Linked DNA regions of Homo sapiens: region 1 is linked to region 2. Evidence: fine-mapped expression QTL. A gene starts in region 2. The other region holds a variant in brackets. All regions are shown on one strand. Distances are between the middles of the regions.

Region 1 (2,915 bases), 430 kb after region 2:
TAAGATTTATGTGATGTGATTAATTTTTGGACCTACTACATTTTTACATGATCACATTTATTGAATGTAATCTTTGCTTCAGTTCATTGCTTCATGTTGTCCAGATACTGCCAGATTCAGATTATGTCTCCTAAATCACTTGCTTTTTTCCCGGTTTTGAATCATCTGCAATTTTGGTGGCCCACCCTCCGTGTCATCATTCAAACTCTTGTTGAAAACAAACATTTAAGGTTAAGTAATGAAGTGTCACACTTATGCCACACCACTAGAGATGTTTTTCAGGCTGACTTCTGTATATTCATTCATTCATCCTTATTAATGTATGTAATTTTCTAGACATTGAACTTATTTTTTTCCATGTTTTACAAGAGAAGTGAGGCTGTTTTGTGGTCCTAGATACTTTATGCTAGTTATATTTCCCTGATGAACCCTGTAAGTAGCATCACTAAGGGAAAACTGCTGCCAGTCAGGCTCTGTTTGTTCTTGATAAACTCACAGGAGTTTTGTAATTGTTCCTTCTCATTCTCAGTTTTCATAATCCATCCTGTTATTAAGCCTTTTTGAATCTTCCAAAGAATATATGTGGAACTCATTGGGAAAATTGAAGATGGAAATGTTTGACATTTCCAGTCCAGGTTTTCAGCTGTAAGTATGGTTTTGCCCCCAGGCTCATCCTGCTTAGGGTTTTTCATAGGCTAACATTTTGAGAAGTGGGATCAGGAGTTATTAATTATCTCCATCTTAGAGGACTAAAGCAGGAACAATGATTCAGTCATTTATTCAATGTTATCAACATTTATTGGACACTTTCTAAAAGGTTCTGTACAGAGGTAAGACTGAATTGCCACCAACTAGATATTTACCAGATATTGGATGAGACAGAGGTCCTCTGCATGTGACCCCCAAATTAGCAGCATTAGCATGACCATGGCACTTGTTGAAAGGGAAAATTTTGGGGCTGCACCAAGACATACTGAATCAGAGACTATTGGAAGCTCTGTTTTAACAAGCTCTCTCCCTTTGAATAAATGTGATGATGCACATTAAAAAGTGAGAACCATTGGAAGAAGACATTTATGTAAAGAAACAATTACAGTTCTATACTAAGCTGTTGCCAACACACTTCTGGGGAACAGAGGAGTGATTAAGCAAAATAATATGGGAGTACATCATCAATCTGTGTGCCTGGGTCAGACATATAAGTAGACAGGTATAGTTTGGTTTCAAGAGCTTCATTACAGAAAGGAAAATTCTCTCTAACTGCCTAGTTATGTACATTATTTTAACAGATGACAAAGTCAATTATTAAACAAACAGAAAATTCGTACTTTAACATGTTTTTGGAATGAGATGGAGTAACAGAGAAAATAAACTAATCAACTAATTAATTAATCAAGAGCCATAAGCAAAGGAAGCCAAAAACATCTGATGAGGTAAAACTGTGAAACTTACTTATGCTGAATTATAATCAATCGATCCAGCAACAGATAAGCTTTCCAGGTTGTACAGGTGCTAGCAAATGGGGGCATGAGGGTACAAATGAGAACAGCAATCTTGACTGCACTGATATTTCCCCCTTGTGTTTGCCATCTCGGCCCTCCTTACATAATGTGCAATTATTTGGCATTGCTTAACATTTTTATATCTTAGAAGTAACATGGGTTCCTGAGCTCTAAATGTACCAATATTCTTTGAATGATTTATGAAGACTTTTGTTCACTTTTTTCTCAGCAAGGTTTGACTTTATCTTTATTCTCAGATGATTAATTAAAGTACTACTGTAATAGTTT[C/A]CCATTTTAAAAAAGTTGATTGATGTAGAATTTGTAAGGTTCTACCGACATTGCAGACTTGAGAATGACCTCCTATTTCACATGAACAATGGATAGGTTGTTTGTTTCGCTTTGACATGTGATATCTAAGATCTTTATGCCATAGCTTACTGGTCTCGGGACAGAGATCTCAGTGTTCTAAGCCTCCTACACTGACCCTTCTCACATGACTGCCTGTCAACTGTACCTACAACAGACCTGTGTTTTAGCACTTATTCCTTTTTTCTTTGTTTATTTACACATCTGTTACTTTCATTGTAATTTAAGCATGCTAGATTTTCTGTTTATTTCAATATTCCCAGCAATTATCATAATACTCGACATGATTTGTTCAATAGGAATTTATTGAATAATGAATGAATGGTTACATGGATCGATGGGTGAATCAAATAACCCATGATGAAGTGCATAATTTTTCTTGTTCAAAAACATGGCATACTTTCTGAAAAATGGCCTCTGTATTTCCCAGTAAACAATTAAGATAAAAACAATCACAGAGATTTAAGGCTACACCTTTACACTATATTTCAGGTTACTTCTTGTATGTAATGCAAAGTTTCATTTACAAGGAAGATAAATGATTAATTATGGAATACTTGTCCTATGCTATGCCAAATGCTTTACATTTCTTATTTTATATTCACAAAAAGCAAGTATTTACAAGTGTCAATATTAATAGAAACGTGTAAGATTTTTAGTGGGAAACATTAGTTTTGGAAACCCAGATGTCATTCTACAAACTCATCTTTTTTATTGATACTTTTCTTTCCTTATCATCCTACTCCCCATCTTTTAGTTGTCTTTTTCCAGCTCCCATTTGTTTCTCTGCCTTATGCTATTTCAACCTTACTTGGTATTTAAAAATAGACTTGGTGGAAATATCTACCCTAATTTGCACAGAACACTGAGATTTTATTCCTATGGCTATAGTTCAAAGTTCAAACAGGCATAAGAAGGGTGAGGTGGTCGGTTCTAGTAGCCTTGGCTAATGTAATGGTTCTGTGGATGGTGGAGGCCCTAAAGATGCTGCTGCATTTTCCACTGAAAGCCACTATTAATGAACTACAGAAAATGAGAACTTATTCC
Region 2 (2,915 bases):
GCGGGACGCTGGGGTGGCCCCGGGCCCCAGCGCCCGGAGCAAATAAGCTCCGCCGAGGACGCGCTTCACACTCCTCCTCCCCAGGCCCCCAGTGAAAGGACGGGCGGAACCTTGCGACCCCAAGCTTTTATGAAATTAAAAAATGCATGGCTACGGGAGCCTCATCCTAACCCCCTTGCCAGCGCCCCCGGCAACTAGACTGATGCCTGGAGAGCGTTACAATGGCTCCACGAGAAAAGGAGAAGCCGGCTGGACCGGACTGAGAGTTCTGCGGATCGATTTCCAAGAGGAGATTGGGGGGAGGGAGCGAGCAGCCCGAGCGAGCGCGGGTCTCCCCCTGGGCCAGCCGAACAGCAACAGCCGAGCCCCATTAACCCGCGGCTCCCTGCGCCTCCAGCATCCACCCCCGGACTGGAGGCGCAAAGCAAACAGGTCTCCGAAGCTGGGCACAGAGGCACATTGTTCGCTCCTGCGGCTCTTACCTCCGTCTGCGAGCGCGCCCCGAGGGAGGGCCGTCTGGCGTGGGGGCCGCGCGGGGACAGGCGCGGAGGGCAGCGGCTACCCCGGCCGGAGAGGGCCGAGGCCGGCCGCGAGCGGGTCCTCGGCCGCCGAGTCCGCGCGGGAGGCAGCGCCGCAGCTCCCCGGCCGGACACGGCGCCGCAGCTCGGCGCGTCCTCCTGCTCGGCCGCCGCCGCCTCCAGCCGAGCAGCCAGCGCCGGGCGGCTCCTGGGGTTAAGTCAACATTTTCCCGCAGTTTCCCACACGCCGCTCTTCGAGAGAGGTCTTTCACACACACGCACACACCCCCAGACCGCACGCTCCCTTAGGAAAAAAAAATCGGGAATCAGAGCGAAAGGGGTGGTGGAAGCAAAAGCCTGACAGAGGTGCGCAGACTTGGGAGTCCCTTCGAAGCGACGGGCGGGAGGGCGCCGGGGGCGCGAGGCCAACTCAGTTTGTCAGGCGAAGCCCCTCAGCCCCCCGAGCGCCCGGCCGGAATAGCATCCCTCGCGCCGACCCTGCGGCCTGGGGCGGGAGGCGGCGGCGACCCCTCCTCACATTTCGGATCTCCCGGCCGGGGCTGAGCGGTGGCCGCTGCCCCAAGGAAGGCTGGCGGCGCAGACTCGGGCTCGGGGAAGCAAGGAGTAGCCGGGAAGAGCCACGCCACACACAGCAGCGGAGGGGAGATGCCCCCCAACAATCCCAAGGAATTCTCTGGTAAGCTCCCGATTTCGCCCCAGCACCTCTGCGTGTGTGTGAGCGGAGAGAGAGTGAGAGGGAGCGAGAGGGAGAGAGAGAGAGACGGGGGAATGCGAAGTCCTGACACAGACTCTCCGCGAGGTCTGAACTGGAGTCACCTCCAGCCTCCTCCTCCTCCTTCCCCCAAATCCGCCCTCCCCGCCAGTTGGGCTAATCATATAAACATACTAGCGTGTACAGCGTCAAAGGACAAATCTCTCCCTCCTGAGTTTTCCAGCAAGGGGCTCGGGCAAACTCAAAAGAAGATTACAGGCAGCTAAGTACAAAACGTGGAGCAGATAATCTATAACTCATTGTCGCCCAATGGCCGTTTTCCACTCCATTTGAGCAGCTGCTGCGGCTGTGCGCCCAAGCGGCGGGGAGGAGGAGCGAAAGGGGATACTTACGGGCTCGAGCCCTTCGGACGGCGGTGGCGGTGGCCAAGCAGCCGCCCGAGGACCAGGCCGGCCCCGGCTCCGCCGGCGGGGCGGCCGCAGGGCTGTCCGGGCGGCGGTGGCGGCGAGGGACGCGCGCGCACGGCCGTGGAACGCGCCCCGGAGGCGGCCTGCGCCAGCTCGCGCCCCTCCCCTTCTCTCCCCTCCCAGTCGGTTCGCGCTCCCCCTACCCCCAGGTCCCCGAGCTCTGCCTCCAGCTCCCCCCATTAACACACCCATTCAACCGCTAACCCCTAGCCCACCCCCAAACTCCACTCACTGCGCGCTGGGTCCTCCGCGCGCTCCGCCGGCGCGCGCTCTCCATCCTGTCCACACACATGCACTTTAAAAACATTTATTTTATTTCTGGAGTGGGTGAAGAGTATTTGGGAGAGCGCCGCGAAGCGCGGCGCTCCGAGGCTGAGCGCAGGGGGATGACCAGCGGCTCGGGGCCCCCTCCCCTCTAGGCCCAGGAGCTTGCTCCCGGCCTGGACTTCGGAGAGGCGCCCGGGATGCGTCTTTCACCCACCCCGTCTCCAGGTTTTCTCTTTTCTCCACGCACCGAGCCAGAGGCCCCGAAACTTTTAGTTTCCGTAGCCCTCCTTTTGTGTAACTGCATGGAGGAGAAAGAACGTCTGTTCGCCGCGGCTGCCTCCGTCCGGCTGCGGCGCGCGGGGGACGCTCCAGGGTTAATGCGTCTTTGATACCTGAGATTTCCGGCGCGCTCGTTAATGAAAGTTACATTTTTTTAAATTGCGATGATTTTTTTCTTTGTAGTTACGTAGAGCCAGCTAAACTTTGACTTTATTGACTATATTTCACAAGAGCGTTTTGTTTGTTTTTGATTAAACTCACCAGGATAAGCAAAGGAAGGAAAGGAGACTACAAGGCTCTTTACTCTCAAGTATAGTCACAGAGCTGTTAGGTCTGTTTCCCTCATTTCCTTACATTGAAACTGCCTTTGCTCTTGTCCTCTGAACACACTTCCTTGCCCCTCTCGGTTGGCAATGTCAGCAAACAGCCAGGCAGAGCCTACGATGGACCTAAGCTGAAAGGAACAGAGCAGGACAGGGCGAATCACGCTGGAAAAACGTTTAAAAGCCAGTTAAGTGTCCTGTGCATGCCACAAAATTCAAACATGGATTTTTTTTTTATTGCAAAATTTCTGAGCTGGAAGCAGCTATGTTTTCAGATGTATTTGTAAACCACTGATTCTACTAATGAATGCAGCCATCAATTAAATAA

Evidence for each region. PIP is the estimated chance that this variant, and not a neighbour inherited with it, causes the effect. A credible set is the group of variants that fine-mapping cannot tell apart.
Region 1: its variant is the best candidate, but not a certain one, in a credible set for the expression of ADGRL2 in pancreas (GTEx, PIP 0.88).

What each region holds. Positions count from the first base shown.
Region 1 is chr1:81,371,070-81,373,984 of GRCh38, reverse strand. It overlaps a transcript of ADGRL2 not described here. Among named protein-coding and RNA genes, the nearest start is that of ADGRL2, 430 kb to the left of the region's middle. The variant C/A (reference allele first, on the strand shown) is at 1,791.
Region 2 is chr1:81,799,797-81,802,711 of GRCh38, reverse strand. ADGRL2 (adhesion G protein-coupled receptor L2) reads right to left here and starts at 1,778. Exons shown (of 24, transcript NM_001366006.2): 1 at 1,644-1,778.